Linked DNA regions of Homo sapiens: region 1 is linked to region 2. The links come from fine-mapping of genetic effects on gene expression. A gene starts in region 2. The other region holds a variant in brackets. All regions are shown on one strand. Distances are between the middles of the regions. Region 1 holds the start of LOC124901185 (a long non-coding RNA gene). Region 2 holds the start of SPINK5 (serine peptidase inhibitor Kazal type 5).

The links. PIP is the estimated chance that this variant, and not a neighbour inherited with it, causes the effect.
Region 1: its variant is fine-mapped to the expression of SPINK5 in ileum (GTEx, PIP 0.97).

The regions. Positions count from the first base shown.
Region 1 is chr5:148,090,910-148,099,705 of GRCh38, reverse strand. It overlaps SPINK5 (serine peptidase inhibitor Kazal type 5), which reads right to left. Exons shown (of 33, transcript NM_006846.4): 8 at 8,478-8,541; 9 at 5,225-5,352; 10 at 3,801-3,888; 11 at 1,712-1,839; 12 at 391-472. LOC124901185 (a long non-coding RNA gene) reads left to right here and starts at 5,964. Exons shown (of 3, transcript XR_007059139.1): 1 at 5,964-6,124. The variant C/T (reference allele first, on the strand shown) is at 4,642.
Region 2 is chr5:148,058,591-148,067,386 of GRCh38, reverse strand. It overlaps SPINK5 (serine peptidase inhibitor Kazal type 5), which reads right to left and starts at 3,407. Exons shown (of 33, transcript NM_006846.4): 1 at 3,288-3,407; 2 at 2,015-2,040. The coding sequence starts at 3,342.

The sequences.
Region 1 (8,796 bases), 32 kb before region 2:
AGGGATAAAAATCATGCGTTGGTGGGGGAATCAAGGTATTTTTTATCTCAAATTAGATGTGAAATATCAGAAACTCATATGTAGAAAGCATACATGTAGAATTTCTCTGGAAAGTAGTTAGCAAAAGCTAACAGTCTATAAGTGATAAAACTAGAAGTAGAACTCAGTTTTTCAGCTTTTAAACAATTTTTTTTTTTTTTTTTTGCAGAGTTAGTTTTTAATCAGCAAGAATGGATCAATCTTCCCATATAATTCATCTCAATACCATCCCCAGATTGAAGAGTTAAGATATTCTGGGGATTTCTGCAGGGCAAAATCTCACCCTTTAGGCTCTTAAAATTTGTTCAAATTATAGCACCAAATAGGATTTATTGGATGGATTCCACTCACTGCATATGAGGTTGCTTTTCCAGATTCTCTTTTGTTTCTAGCTCGTGCTTCAGCCTTTTTCTTTTCTTCATTTTCTGCTTGGCTGAATAAGAGGGAAAAAGAAGCAGATCCATTAGGAACAAACACATGCCATGATTTCTCCACATCCTTGCACTGTTAACTGTTCTCCCTCCTTAGAGTGGAACAATTTTGTCCCTTTATCACTGCATATCAATGAGAAGCAACAAAATATCCTCCAGGATAGTATGGTGCTATGATTTCTTCATAATGTCTGTTTAATGTTGAAAGAAAGACGGCAATAGTGGATCTGGGATACTTGCTTTCTGTAAATTAGTTTTCTTGCCCATAGTAAGAAAAGGAGCATGATCAATGTTCATAACAGAGGCACCAAAACTAAAATCATGGTGGCATAACCTGAAGGCTGAAAGTGGCCTTAACAAAGCACATCTACTCATCCCCTTGTTAATCAGAGAAGATGAGAGGTAGAGGGGGTCTTTGCTACATCTCAGGATATGACTACAACCAAGGTCTCCTCCCTCAAGACCATGGTCTATCTATCACACCATGTGTACCCTAGCTTTGCTTTAAACTTAAATATTTTGCTTACTCATAGCTGTTTCATCTAAAGGACAAGATGTGAAAAAAAAAACCACAATAATTTCCATATACTGATAAAACAAATAAGCCTAAATTTGCTTTGTACAATGGAATTGCACAGTATGTACAGTTAACTGATGATATTTCAACCATATGTAGTTGTCAATCAAAACAAAGAAAGCCATAGATTCTAAATATAAGTTAAATACTTAATTTGAGCTCAGCCAAATAAAGAGCTATCGTAAATCTTGAAAGAAAACTGTCCATTCTAACTTATTGAGAAATATTGCATTACATAAAATAATACCCATTGTAATTTTATAGGAGTTTAGTGTTGTTTCATGGGAATTTTGACTTTATTCCATTTCTACATTAAGCATCACCTTTGGACTCTTAACTCCCATGGAAGATGAGATACCTATAAATTGCTAAAACAGGCTAACGTGTGAAGTTTCAGGAGTAAGGGGGCATCTACTATTTGTACAAGTTCATGTTTGTCAGGACATTCCAGTGCTAAAAGAGGGAGTGTCAGAGGAACAAGGCGTCTTAAAACAAATAACTCTAGGTACTTACTCCCAGCTCTATCACTGATATTTTCCATGTAATGTTTTCAACTCACTTCCCTGTCTTGAGCCACAGTCTCCCCATCTATGAAAGAAGCTGTTTCTATTAAATTACCTGCAAGATCCCTTCTTTCTTTGACATTCTAAAACTCTATACTCACAAGTAGGCTTGACACATGGAACACAAGTTGCCATGCATTTTCCCATCTGGACCACGAATAGGGTCATTTTCTCTGGTACAGAAAAGTATTCCATTCTTTGCCTGATTTTGATATTGACTGCAGAGTTTCTGAATAATGAATAAGAAAAAGTTGAGATATAGTTCTGTTTTCTATGTATGAATGTTAAATGTTATTTTACAAAGAAAAAAGAGAAATTAAGGATGAAAAATAAAACTTTTAAGATTTAGGACCATCCAAAAATTGTGATATTTCTCTCCTTGTAATATCCATTTACATTTTCAACGAATGCTTAAGTTAGGAATATATAAATAGAAATATGATTTATTTATATTTATGTTCTTTATCAGTCAAATGGAAAAGATAAGTAATTGCAATATAAAAAGCTAAGAAATATAACACTAGTCTGAATTAAGTGTGTACAAGTACAATGAAAAGAATAATTCATGGAAGTTCAGGGAACTTATGTCTAAGTTCTATCTTGAGAATATATTCAGGAACATAATGTGGAAAAAGGCCATCCAAGAGGAATTAAATGGACAAACACACAGGGGTGTGAAAGAACATGCTATTTTGAGGTAATCTAACATATTTATGAATATAGTGGCTAAATAATTAGTTGGATAAAGAGAATAATATTTGGGAAATGGTCAAAAGGAGACCTTGAAAATCAAAGACCACTAAACTTTGAAAGGAATTTGGATATTACTTTTAGGCAATGGGAAAATTATAAATGTTTATAGCAGAAAATGGCAAAATCAAATCTTTGTTTTACAAAGGTTATCAACCAGATGTGTGGAGGATTTGATTAACTAGGGACTGAAGTTAGAACAGTAATTATATTATTAAAAAAGAGAGAAAGAGAGGGAGGAAAAGAGAAAAAAGAATAGAGAGAAGAAAAAGAAAAAGGAGAAAGGAAAGGAAGAAAGGGAAGGAAGGAGAAAAATTGGAAATAAATGATAAAATAGTAGTTGACAGATATTTGAATATCAAAATTAAAAGGACTTGGTAACCTAGGACTGAGGGGAAGAAAGCAGTTCAAAATGAGGCTTAAGCTATGTGTAGTGGCTCATGCCTGTAATCTTAGCACTTTGGAAAGCTGAGGTGTGAGGATAGCTTGAGAGTGGGAAGTCAAGGCTGCAGTGAGCCATGATCCCACCACTACACTCCAGCCTGGGTGACAGAGAAAAAAAAGAAAGAAAGAAATTGTCTTAAAAAAAAAAAGAAAAGAAAAGAAAAAGAAAAAGAAAAAAAGAAAGAAAGAAAGAAAATGGAGTTATACTGGCAGAGGGTGGCCTGATGGAGTGGCTTACTTAGGAGAACTGTTGACTGCACATCATAGAAGTCTGGAAAACTGTCTGTAAGAAATAAGTTAGGGTTTCTATAAGAAGTGAAATGGTCTGAATATACTCTAGAATATCTTCAAACATTGGAATTTTATAGCATCGCTGACTCGTGGAACCATAGTTTTTGTTCTCATATTCTATGACATATGAAAACAACATGGAGGATGAATTAAATCTTGAAGATTGAGAAAGATGGAGACCAACAGTGTACAAACCAGGTACAATGCCAATACGTCAATGCAAAAGAAAACTATTAAGTGTCTGAGCTAAGAGGGTAGCAGTAGAAAAACAGACAGGTGACTAGTTAAAAGATACTTAGAAAGCAGAGAACAGTATAATTTAAAAGGAAGCACATTAAAATTCAACATTGATATTGTTTTTGAAGTAAATACCTTCACAATAGCTACCACACATCGAAGACTACATATCACACTTTGAATTCAGACAATGTTTTGATATTTCACCTTCATTTAGGAGTGCAAAACTACATTATTAATGTGACTTGATTAATTGCCTCCATATACAGCTAGAAATTGTAATGCCATAATTTTTTAATCTAAGTTTCACAAAATAATAACTAGAAATTAGTTTCCAGCAAACCTACTAGTAGTGTGGAAAATATTAAACAATATTGAAAGTGCATACTATGTAATATGCACTCTCTCACACACGCACCCCCCCACACACACACAAGTTGTAACTAGATTGATCAAACTGATTCTCACCACAATTTCTCTTTTAACTTTAGTTTTTTCTTCAGCTTTTCCCAAATTTTGATCTGTTTTACTGTTTTCCTCTGAAAAACGCTGCTTGCTGGAAAAAGTAAAATAAATGAGTAGAGATGCTTCCGATCTTCATGTTACAAAACAGTCATTAGGTATAGATGGAAAAATATCTAAGTTGTCCTGAGTTTTAGTACAAACACTTTAAAAACACCTCAAATCCCCAAAAAGACCCTTTAATTTCACCTTTATACCATTTACTTCCACTAAAATGATCTTTTTTCTCATCTCCCTTTCTTAAAAGAAATTTAAAACTCTGCAGCTTAAATTCTACCTTTTTGAAGAAGACATTCCAGTTCCCAAATACAAATGAGCGCTATGTCTATTGCTGTGTTTTTGTATCGAATAGTCTTCTCTTATACAGCAGTTTTTATTCTATTTTGCAATATATAAATATGTGCACATGTCCATGGCTTATTTCTGCTACTGAACTTAAGCTTCTTGAGAGTGGGAGATCTTCATTCATATCTTCATTCATTCATTTAGTGAGTAATTATGGTTTTTTGGGCAAGTGTTGGCTGGGCCCTGGGCATGCAGGAGTATATAATACAAACACATACCCTGCCCTCTTGTAGTTCTTGAGGCTGGTAGAAAAGACTGAAAGTCAACAAAAACTTGGAGAAATAATTGTATAATTGCCAACTGTGATGGTGGTTAGAAAAGACAATTACTAAGGATTATGAGAATTTAATTTCAATTAGGGAAGGACTTTAGGAGTTCTTGTCCAAGGAAAGATAATCTGAAATGTAATCTACAAGAGGAGGGGACATCATCTGGCCAAGAC[C/T]GGGAGGAACTGGCATAGGACAGGACACAGGAAAGGGCTTGTAGAGCTAGAGAAGCCGAAAGTGTCATGAGATGTCATCTAAGACATTTTCATAAATGTGATAATTTGTATGTTGTGAGATTTGCCCTTCTCCCAAGGTCATATGTCCCAGATAAAAAGATAAGAGTAATCCAATTAATGTATAAACCTGAAGTATCTGAGAGTGTTGCATCAACACTGTTACCATGGGATAATTACTGAAGAAAAACAATCGAAGTCGTGGTACCTGCTTTTACCCCCATTCTATACTAGAATTAGTTCACAAACAGTTTCACATAGGTCACAGTCACAGGGGAATGTTAAGAAGTGTGCTATGCTGTAAGTCAATATTTCAACTGGAAAATGGAATCCATTTCTCTTCAGAAATAGACAAACATCAGTAGTGCCTGCTCACTAGGTGGCATTATGATTTGTGGAGGGCATAAAACTGCTCAGATGGTTCTCAACAACAAAGCTTCCTTTCAAAGTTATTTTTACTCATCAATCCAATCAATCTCCACTCCCACCCTTTGAATCACTCTGAAAAAACCACTTCTATACTCACAAAATTTCAGCACACAGGGCACATTTGTTGCCATGCATCCTGCCGTCAGGGCCACGGACTGGATCACTCTCCCGTGTACAAAAAAGCCTTCCATTTCTCACTTGTTTTTCATATTCCTTGCAAAAATCCTTTGAAAAGACAATTATATTTATTTTACTTCATTTCATTTCAGGATATTTTATTTTTTGAGACAGGATTTTGCTGCATTGCGCAGGGTGGATTGCAGGGGAATGATCATAGCTCAGTGAAGCCTCTAACCTCTAGGCTCAGAGATCCTTCCACCTCAGCTTCCTAACTAAATGGGACTACAGACATGCACCACCACACCCGGCTAAATTTTTTCCTTTTTGGTAGAGACTGGATCTCATCATGTTGCCCGGGCTGGTCTTGAATTCCTTGGCTCAAGTAATCTTCCTGCCTTGGCCTCCCAAAGTGTTGAAATTATAGGCATGAACCAACACATCCAGCCAACAAGTAATTTTATTTACCATTTTTCTACGTTTTAATCTGGAAACTTTATAATAGATTTATTACCACAAAACATCAGGTCTAGAAGTTGGCAAATACATACAACATATTAATGAGGATTACTAAGAAACAGTAATTATATTGTCAACTACTTGGCACTTGTATCTGTTATGTGGTAGGTTTATTAAAAGATAAAAAACAGCCTCGGAAAAAATAAGGCTGACCAAGAGTTTTCTTGGATTAAAACTAGGTATTTCTTTTTAACTTTCAGATCAATAGGGGTCAGGGGATATCTTTCATGAGGTTCCAGCACAAACACAACAAAATGCAGCAGCCAAATCACAAAAAAAAAAAGAAAAAAAAGTTGTGAGAAGATGAGATGTCTAAAAGTGACTTAATATGGATCAAGTCAAGAATAATCCAGCTAAGTTTGTAAGTATAAAGAAACAAGATGTTATCCAACAGTGTTATGCTTACTTTAGTTGATTTTCTCTATGGATCTGTGGATAATTTTTGTGTATTCTGCCTTCTTTATCCATAATAATTTCTGACATTGTAGAGAGAGAGTAGATCTAATTTCCTTTCACCCTCACCTTAGACAGATAGATCATCAAGACTGATACTCATTTAGAAAAGCTAAAAAGGAGTGACTTCCCCCCACCAAAAAAAATCCAAGAAAGATTTGTTTTCAGATTTCCTGATGCTTTGGTTCAATACTTTCAGGCTACTTTCTGTGTTTTGAAAACTCTACTATGTGAGGAGGGCTAAACTTTACCAAAAAAATGATACTCTAAGCTACTCTAGGCTTGGGGATCTCTATGTCATTAAACATTTTGTGGTGAGATATAGTACTATAATATGACCTACAAAAAATCCTGGTCTATAACTTTCTTTTCAACTGTGTGACCTTCGTCATTCAATTTCAGGCAAGAAAACATGGGCATAAAGAGCATGGCTAGGAGTCAAATGACCTGGGCCACTAGATTGTCCCTCTCACCCAAATGGGAGACCACAGCAAAGTCCCTTCTCCTTTGGAACCACAGTTACTACTTCTACAATGAGGTTTTTGGAACAGATGCTCTGTAGGACCTTTTCTAGATCTAGCATTCTTTGGTTTTTTAAAAAATAATTCAAATTCCATTGGGATGCTTTAACAGAGAATCCTAACTGCTTCCTATTAAGAAGATATTTATTTTTGGAGGAGCAATGGATGTGCTCCAAACCTCATGGTTGTAACAACCTAGAAATAGAGAAGCAGAAGACAGTCACCTGATAATCATAGCATGGTATAAAAAATTAATGCTCAATGATTCTCGTAAAAGAAACAATGATAATTTCAGTTTATAAGTTGTGATTCAGCCAAGGAGATTCTGAAGAAACACTGTGTTTGCAACCTAGTGACAAGTTAATTATAGGGAACATATTGAGCCATCACAATAAAGCAGTCCTATTCACACCATCATGCCCGGTGACCCCACCAAAACAATGACCCTAGCCACAGAGAGGAAGAGGGAAGTACAGAGACCTAATGAAAAACAAAGGAAAATAACTCTCTGTGTTTATGAAGTAATAAAATGTTAACTATCACAGGATGACCCAAAGTTTTAGACTGAAATTTAACAACCACCACAAAAGAATTCCTTTTCAATCCTTGGCAAGTGTTGCATAAACTGTAGATGGTTCTGAATACTTAGTTTTCCTAAATGTAAACCTTCAATACCCTATTTAGGTTGAGAGCTTTGCTTCATTAAATAAGCATTACGAACTGAAGGGCTAGCTCTTGACTACCAAAAGGTGGGCTTGTTTCTTCCTTTAGGAAAACATAAGCCCTACGATCTGCAAAAAGGAGTGCACTTGTATTAGTACAAAAGTGTGCAGGATGTAGAATCACAGTCCAACAGGAAGGTAAAATTCAGGTCATTATCCAACCTCTTTACTTTGCTGACAAGAAAATTAAGGCCCAGGATGATTATTTACTTAGTCTCCCACACCCAGAGCATGGCAAAACCAAGGCTAAAACTCAGGCGTTCTGACTTCTCAACAAAAGGTTAGCCATTTAGCAAAGAAACTGCTATCCCTCTCATTGAAAGTAGGTGATTTAAGAAATCCAGGCTGCATTACCTAAAGTGCTTATTCAAAACTTTTTATACTAGATTGAATAATTAAATTATCAAGTAATTTCAAAAAAATAATTTTAAGGATTTTTTTAAAACACATTCTAAAAATTTGTCTTTTTTTTTTTTTAAAGCAGAATCAAGACCTTTATAAATGCAGGTTTTTCTGAACAGAATAATCACAATGGCAAAGTGAATAACTTCAACTTGTGTCAATTTAATTGCACATAAAATGCACTAGTGGATATAGTGTTTAAAACACTCTCACTATTTTAAAATTATTCCTGTTTAATTTATATTTCATTGCCAATTTTAAACAATTTATACAGAGTAAAATGGGTTTACACTAAACCAAAAAGAAGGCTGCTAGAAATTAAGCAGAATTTGGTTTATACAAACTTTCTATCTTATATCTTCTTTTGGGGGCTAGAGGACTGGAGAAACACAGGTGGAAACTGCACATTTTGGGCCTTAGGTAGGAAATGCTGTTTTAAATCTGAATCTAATGATTAATATTCTAGGAATAGTCAATTTGGGGAATTTTGATATTAAGAAAAATATCTATATAATAATAAAAGACAATGACTTTATTTCATTACTCAAAGGTTTAGGCATACATTTGTTAATAAATATGGCCACAAGAACAAAATTGCGTTGGTGAGTCATTTTACCTTTTCAGCATTTCGTCGAATTCTAGTTTCACCCTCTCGCTTGGCATTTTCAGCTTCTTTTAAACTGTTAAGAAAAGTAAACAGTTGGTCAGTTTATGACTCAATCATATTTTCAGTATCCTCAGTCCTGTGCTAAACACTTTCATATCCTCTGCTACGAATTGCTGAAAATGATCCTCTTACAAGAGACAAGCATTTCCGTCTTCAATGCCTGAGCCAGAGAAATTGCCAAAGATAAGGAAAGAAAGAAAGACGGCAATAGCTTATCTGGGAAACTTGCTTTCTGTAAATTAGCTTTCTTGCCTATAGTAAGAAAGGG
Region 2 (8,796 bases):
TCCCTGGCCTGTTTTTGTTTTGTTTTGTTACTGTTGCTGTTATTCTCTTTTTCTCAGCATGTCCCAGGAAAACTGGAGCCCTCTAGGGCCAAGTTCTTCCTGTTTCCCTCACTGGCTGAGGCCTAATTTGTTGTCTTCTATTGTCCATCTCCAGATATTATAATAAAACCCTCCAGGAGCTGCCATTGCCCTATCTCAGTGTTAGAGCACTGACCAGCTTGCTTTTGCCTGAAGAATGACTCTTAGGTGATGACAAATTTAAGCATGCTTAAGATCCTTGCAGATTGCTGCAGTGCTTTTCCCTGCTGTTTAGGTTCATGTTTATGACATTTAACATGCTTTTATCATGCTGAAAGGAACCCAAGCTACTAAACTTGGAAAATAACCAAAATCACAGCATCGTAAAAAAGACTACATCAATAGTTTTCATTTCTGACACAGTATCCAAAAACTCTGATTAGAAAGGCTTCCAAATAAATAATTACTTCTTTGTGTTCTTGCCTTTAATACCAAATATAAGAAGTCACTAAATTTGTTTTTAAAATATTTTTCAGTGAAATAGAGGTTAATGCTATGAAAAATAGCAGTGTAAAATTCACAGTATCTGCCATAAATCACCAACCATCATCACGGACTCTGAAAAAGAAAATGATGGTTTTATACACAATGATATTTATATAATATCCTTCTTTTTTCCCAGTATAAAACTTCCAAGTGAGCATGCTCTCTGATTCCCAAATGTCTAGCTTATTTTCTACTCTACTGAACTTTCTGGACCTCTCCCTATCAGTAAACTTAGATGAAATAGTAGAGAACATGATAAAATTCTCTAGAACACTCATGTAAGAAGTTTCTTTAAAAAAAATCATTGCAACAAAATACGGCAAGAGAGTATTTTAACCATGGTTCTCAGAGTTTCAACGTAAAGAATAGCTGTTTCACATTTTTATTCCTTTAATGTTCGTGGCCAGAGATAAAACAAATTTTGCCACATATTCAGCAAAACATTTAAGATTGTGCTTTAAGTGCTGAATTAATAGCATGCATAGCAGTGTGTGTGTATATAAATATATAAAATGTGTGTGTGTGAGTAATTGGTCATCCTATCTTTCAAATAGATTAAAAAATTTAACTTCTAGTAGAAAATGATTTTTTAATTTATCAAACAAAAGAGGTTTAAGAGTTGGTAAAGCACCTTCTTGCGTCAGGGCCTCTGCGCTCACAGGTGCTTCTGTCTGGCCTGCTGTAAACTGCAAATACCTTCGTGGTTCATTCCCTTATGACCTTCAGATTCCTATTCTAATACTGTCTGTCCAGAGAGAACTTCCCTGATTATCCTTATGAGAATGGATACCACCTCCATTCTCAGGGATCCTATTATGCCTCCTGATTTATTTTTCTCCTAGCATTTATCATTATTTAACGTACCATATGTTTTGCTAAGCTACTTATTAATTTGTCTGTTTTCCTACACTAAAACGTAATTTTCAGGGCAGGAATTTCATCTATTTTGTTTACTTAAAAATAACCCCAGCATCTCAAACAGGGTCTGACATCTAAGAGATGCTCAATAAATATTCATTACATGAACTATATACACCGACTATATACAAGATACAGACCACCCTCTTTTGCATAATGATTACTAGAAAATTTATTTCAGCTTCCTATGTGGTGTATCATGGCTTGTTGAGATGTTAAATGGAACAATAGTAGTTTTCCAGTTGATTTATTTTTTGTTTATGAAATTTTAAAATGCTCCTTTAACATGATAAATTGCCTCTTGCAGACATCCATCATCATTAATATGTTGAGTGTGTGTGTGTGTGTGTGTGTGTGTGAGAGAGAGGCTCATGTCCTGATTCATAAAAATCTGTTTCTGTGTTTTTAACAAAAGCTATTAGTACCTACCAGTATAATATGTTTGTATTATTAACATGAAGGTGTTGGCCACAAACCACTTTTCTTTGGGAATCTTGGAATGAATTCAATGAACAGAAAAAGCAGGACTAACCTGATCTTCATTCTTACTGGCAGCATCTGGGATGAAAATATAGAAACCAAAGTTAAGGAAATGTAAAATATTTAATAAACAAAACAAATAATCCATTTAATGCAGCATCTTGATTGCTTTAATGACAATATGTTGTAAAACCGCAAATGGTTTTTGAACACATTAAGATTTATCATGGCAAATAAAAGAAGGGCACTGGACCAGGAGATTAGTATATATACTCACAAAGGTCTAATCACTCAGAAAGTTACAATTACTTTGGAAAATAATACTCATGTGAATTCTAACCCCATCAAAATAGCTTATCTTCAAAAGGTCCTTTCGGAGTAATAAATGCCAGCCTCCCTTTTAAAATTACAATATAACATACACACAAAATACTATACCAATTATAATTTTGAAACTATATTATAGTTGAAACTATAATATAGCATTACATTTATAGGATATATACATAAAATTTAATTTTCTGAATTCTGGCAGCTCTACCTCCTTATTACAGCTGCAAAAGTTAGAGATCTGACAGAAGGTAAGATTAAGGTCACAGGCTATTATACTCTCTCATTAACATAGGCTCTTTTGTACCTACACACCTATTTTAGGAAAATGGGCATTATTTGTATATGATTTCAGACTATCTATGAGTTTCTCTTTTTAAAAATTTTAATGTTTCAGAGCAACGTAAGTCTAGGCAATTTGTGTTCTCTTAGGGTTAAATAGCAAATATAAAAATCTACCTTCCAGCTCCCACAAAAGTCCCTCACTCTTTGGGAGAAATGCTTTCAACCCATTTAGCATTTGAAAACACAAGACTAAAATAAGCTAGAAGATACCACTGCTTTAAAATAAGAACAGATGATTGAATTTTAAAAAATATTTCATTTATACCTATAACATTAAAATACATATATTATTTACAATTAAGTTTTAAATGTCTATTACATATATAAGAATATGCATTATGAATTGATACATTTAGCAAGAGGAAGATGAAGAAGAATCTATTCAGTTTTCTGAATTAATAAAGAATTAATGGAAGAATTTCTCATGGTTAGAAAATTCAGATTATCTCAAACTACTTGCCATTTCTAAAGATAACAACATAATTATAAAGCCACATATATAAATCTTCAGAACTCTGTGTCTGGCAAGACATTTCAGGATTATACATGCATACGTAAACATTTTTTGGCAGGAGTAGGGGGAGAAAAGTCCCTTCCCCAGGGCTTTGAGATGTGTGGCAAGAGGCTTAGATTACACACAAATTGCTCACCTTGTATGAGGCAAAGAGCCAAGGGCAGAAGCACTGACACTGTGGCTATCTTCATGTTGAAGACGATGCAAGTCGCCTACAGGTCCACTCCATGCATTGCTCAGCTGGTGCAGTATGACTGAACTCGGGGCGATGCAGTTTACTTTTATAAAGCACTGGTGACACCCACATAAAACCAGTTGTTCAAGGTCATGGGACTTATATACCACACCACTTTAGCTTCCATCCTTTAGGATCCTGTCAGGGTGTCAGGTTTGAACAGAGAATATCTATTTCTAAAGTAGGAATGTTCTTTCATGGTACCTCCCCCAGAACGCAATTGATGGAGTCCACAGACCCTACTCAAAGTTGAATATTCTATAATCCTATATAATAACCGAATTCCTCAGAAATACCAGATATACTACCTCGTAGACAAACATGTTTCTGACTGGACTCCCTTCATAAGTGGGAGAGGAGAGGAAAGGAAGACAGATTGGTTGTCCTACCAGTCAGGTATAGATTTAAAGATTTCCACATCCAGAGAAATCCAGGGTTCCTGTTCTGAAGTGTCTGAGTTCAGTGTCACAGACTCATATATATGTTAGAGTTGAACGACCCTAAAAGATAACCTGGCAAAATTCTAATGTTGAATATATAGGGAGGCAGGAACTCAGAGGAGCAATGACTTTCTCATAAGCAGACAGTTTAGTTGGAGCAGGCAGAGGAGGCATCCAGCACTTGCAAGCAGACCACACATATAACATTCTTTCCTCTCTGTACACTGCTTCATCCTTAGACATTAGAAAAGGCAGGAACGTTGGAAAAATAAAACTTGTATGTAACTACTTTTAAAACTTCTCAATCTGCAGGATATTTTATATTCTGAAGCCTTATTTTATATCCTAGCCAAACATCATAATCATAAACATTGGAGACTCAGTTTAACTTTCCATAGCCTATGATTACCCATATTACCGTTTGAAAAATTTGGCTCAATCAGTTTTCTCTAAATCATATTTCTTCCTGTATCATCCCATTATTTAGTCTCCCAAAAAGAAAAGAAGAAAAAAGTTGTTAACAATTATAAATGTGTAAATGTAACATTTTTCTAGAGAAAGTTTCTTCTCTTTAGTTGCTTCTTTCATCCTACAAGTAACACCTTTTTTCTACCAGCTTATTTTGCCCTAATAGCTTAAGAAAGCACCTGAAGAAACATGTGAAGATGACTGAAACCAGAGCCAAATTGTTTCATTCCAGTACTTCTCAAGATATTCACATCCACAGAAGAAAAGTTCGAGACTTTATCCAATTAAAGGCCTTTTTATGATGGTTCCAGAAAACTGATCAAAGTTGCCCAACTTAGGGAGTATGCCAATATTATGAGATTTATCACAGTGAGATAATACGTCCTTTCTTTTTTCTCTCATGAAATAATTTATTTCCTATAAAAATATAATCACTGGGCCAGGCACAGTGTATCACGCCTGTAATCCCAGCACTTTGGGAGGCCAAGGCTGGCGGATCATGAGGTCAGGAGATCGAGACCATCCTGGCCAAGATGGTGAAACCCCATCTCTATTAAAATACAAAAATTAGATGGGCTTGGTGGTACGCACCTGTAGTCCCAGCTACTCTGGAGGCTGAGGCAGGGGAATTGCTTGAACCCGGGAGGCGGAGGGTGTGTGAGTTGAGATGGCGCCACTGCACTCCAGCCTCAGCGACAGAGCAAAACTCCATCAAAAAAAAAAAAGATATACACACACACACACACACACACACACACACACACATACATATATATACACACACATATATATATATATATAAAATCATTGGTTTCAAGGTCTGCACTATTGTTGTAGCTTGGCTCCTTTCCAATGGAATAGTAAAATTAGTGACCACGGAAAGCAAGTTCAAATTCCATTATTGTTACAGGTTAGAAAATCAAAGTCCATCATAGCTTAATGGAAAGAGAATGAGACAGGGTTTCAGAAATCTGTTTCTATTCTATGTAGTCTTTTCAACTATGTAGGGATAGAAATGAACCCAGCTTTGAAGCAAGCTAGAAATGGGTCCAAATCTTGAATTGTTAGCCATGTTGCCTTGGACAAGTCACTTATTTTCTCTAAGCCTCAGTTTCCTAATATGTAAAATAAAAATAATAACACGTACATTGTACTAGTGCTAAGAGGTTTAGAGATAAATCATATATATAATGCGTGTGTGTTTGTGTGTGTGTGAGAGAGAGAGGTGCTTAGAACAATTATCAAGTTTATGTGATAAGCTTGATAGTTAATGATAGCTGGTCTTGCATTTTTACATAATTATAATAACGTGGTTGTACTAGATAATTTCTAAGATACCAAGAAAAGTAAACATCTGTTGACTGTGGATTTCACCAATAGATTTATATTTACTCAGCATAGAAAAACTACCCCAACACAATTTGAGGTGAAATTAAACTATAACGATATATGTTCTCTTTTTCCCTTTTAATTGTATTTTAAACCATAATGCCTAAACAAATCGAAACATCACCTGTTAAAACTTAACGAAAACCATTGCTCTGTTTCAATCAGCATTGATTTCTTGTCTCTTTCTCTAAAAGCCTCTTCTAAATATTCACATATCAATACTAATTTTTTATCTTTCATCTGCCCTGTCAGACCATACGAAATGTGTCCCAACCATATATTCTGTTATTGACGGTAAAAGAGTTTGATGCCTTAAAATGGAATCAATGACTGTGTATTATGCTCTAGTGACCCCTAGCCTAGCCCAAATGGAGAATATTCCCAGGAGTGGAAGTGGTGCTAGGGTGGAACAGAAGAACCAAAAGATGATTGCCTGTCTTAGGAATCTCTACTATGAGGAAACATTGAAGACATTGGTTTCCTTCTTACTGGAAAAGAGCTCCTCAGAGATGCCAGCCTTTTCTGAAATGATGAATAAAAAGTTTGAAACTGATATCTTTTCCAAATGGAGAAAGTAGTAAAAAGAAGATTCAGTGAGCACCCCCAAAATTGGAAGTACTCATCAGCTGGCTCATTTCATTAGGGCTTCTTCTCCATTTCATTTTAGGAATGTTGTAAAGCCAGAGGTGATTCATCACATGCTCTGTTAATTACTCCTCATTCCTGAAAATCACCATGAATATTACATTTAAATGAATGGGATTGAAGGTTTGGAGAACTCAGGTTTGGGTCAGAGTTAGGTTATCAAGGTATTCTTCTAACTCAAAATATCATCCTTGTTTTTAACTCTTTCAATTATTCATCAAACATGTAGAAACTTTTTTCCTCTCATTAGAAATGAGTGGGCTTAGATAATAAAAACTATGAATTTTACAACCTTACGCATTTATGAGGTTGGCAGAATCTGAAGGATACTGATACAGGGGGAGGAAATGAGAAAATTATAAAGATTGTTGTAGATCAGTAATGTTACTACAAACAAAGGTTATTTCCAAAATATAAAGTTACCATATCATTCCTAAAGTCTTCTGTTTTTCTACACAGAGGGAGCCTTGATGACGATAATAGTTAATAAATAACTATAGTCTTTTATGATTAGATCACCTTCCACAGCTTTCAAAACAACCTGCCATTCATTAGCTCTTTTGATTTGTTTATGCAGTGTTGTGAGGCAGCCAATTAGGTGTTATTATCTTTTCTTTACCAGCCAAAATTGGTGTCATAAAAGAAACCTGCAGTAGGAACTAGCTGGGATGGTCATCTCAGCCTTGACACTTTCTTACATTTTATACCTTTAATTTCTCTGAGTTTCCCCACGGCCATCTCACAGACTTTTATACCGTTCAAAGAGAATCCAGATCGAGACCATCCTGGCTAACATGGTGAAACCCCGTCTCCACTAAAAATCCGAAAACATAAAAATTAGCCGGGCGTGGCAGAGGGCGCCTGTAGTCCCAGCTACTCCGGAGGCTGAGGCAGGAGAATGGCGTGAACCCGGGAGGCGGAGCTTGCAGTGAGCCGAGATCGCGCCACTTCACTCCAGCCTGGGAGACAGCGAGACTCCATCTCAAAAAAAAAAAGAGAATCCAGACGTTACAGTGCTTTAAACTAGATACAGCCCTATGCATGCACACACACACAGACACACATACACAATCACTTGGGCAAAAAGAGGTATGTTGTGACCATGAGTAAAATTTATATATTCTAATATATCTTAAAAGATGAAATAATTTCTTTTTTATTTTTTTATTTTCTTTTCTATAATTCTAATATTTTCCCCCATCAATCTAACATGTCTATATTCTCCTGTTTGTTTGTTTGTTTTGAGGCGGAATCTCACTCTGTCCCCCAGGCTGGAGTGTAGTGGTGCAATTTCGGCTTACTGCAAGCTCCGCCTCCAGCGTTCATGCCATTCTCCTGCCTCAGCCTCCCGGAATAGCTGGGACTACAGGCGCCCACCACCGTGCCTGGCTAATTTTTTTTTTTTTTTTTTTTTTTTTGTATTTTTAGGAGAGACAGGGTTTCACCGTGTTAGCCAGGATGGTCTCGTATCTCCTGAACTCGTGATCCACCCGCCTTGGCCTTCCAAACTGCTGGGATTACAGGCATGAGCCACCGCGCCCGGCCTATATTCTCCTTTGTAAAAGACACTAACTGGAAAACAGCCTTTACTCATCTTCTTATCTGGTAATGTTGCATTACCAACTAACTTCACTCTCTCTGTAGGAATTCCTTTCTGTTTGTCTGGAAAGACTAAGAAACTAGAGATAAGCCTCTCATTTTATCTAATAATAGAATGGGATGGGCATTGTTTGTTTACTGAGTATATAGACCCTGCTATTTACAGACATAATTACTGCTTTTATTAGATTAGGATTAAGAAGACAGGAATTTCAATGTCTAATTTTTAATTGTATTAATATTTTCATATGGGTTATATTTTATTTTAGAAACAACAATCAGCTTCTCCCTATAGCTGATATTACTTGAACCCCTGACCCATGGCCCCACACTGTTTATCACTCAAAAATTTAGTGCATTTTAAAGTCTCCTAGGATTTATCCTGACAATAGAAAACAGAGGTTTGAGGAGCTACAGTCTTTCAATAAATCATAACAAATTAATCCTGAAGTACCTAAGAGTCTACCGGCCGGATGTGGTGGCTCACGCCTGTAATCCCAGCACTTTGGGAGGCCGAGATGGGCGGATCACGAGGTCAGGAGATTGAGACCACCCTGGCTAACACGGTGAAACCCCGTCTCTACTAAAAATACAAAAAAATTAGCCAGGCACGGTGGCGGGTGTCTTTAGCCCCAGCTACACGGGAGGCTGAGGCAGGAGAATGGCGTGAACCTGGGAGGCGGAGCTTGCAGTCAGCTGAGATCACTTCACTGCACTCCCGCCTGGGCGACAGAGCAAGACTCTTTCTCAAAAAAAAAAAAAAAAGTCTACCTAATTTTAGCAAAAAAGCATTGCAAATTTTATATGTGTAATATGTGTGTGTGTGTGTGTGTGTGTTTACAGTAGGGAAGAATGAAACTGTTAGATTT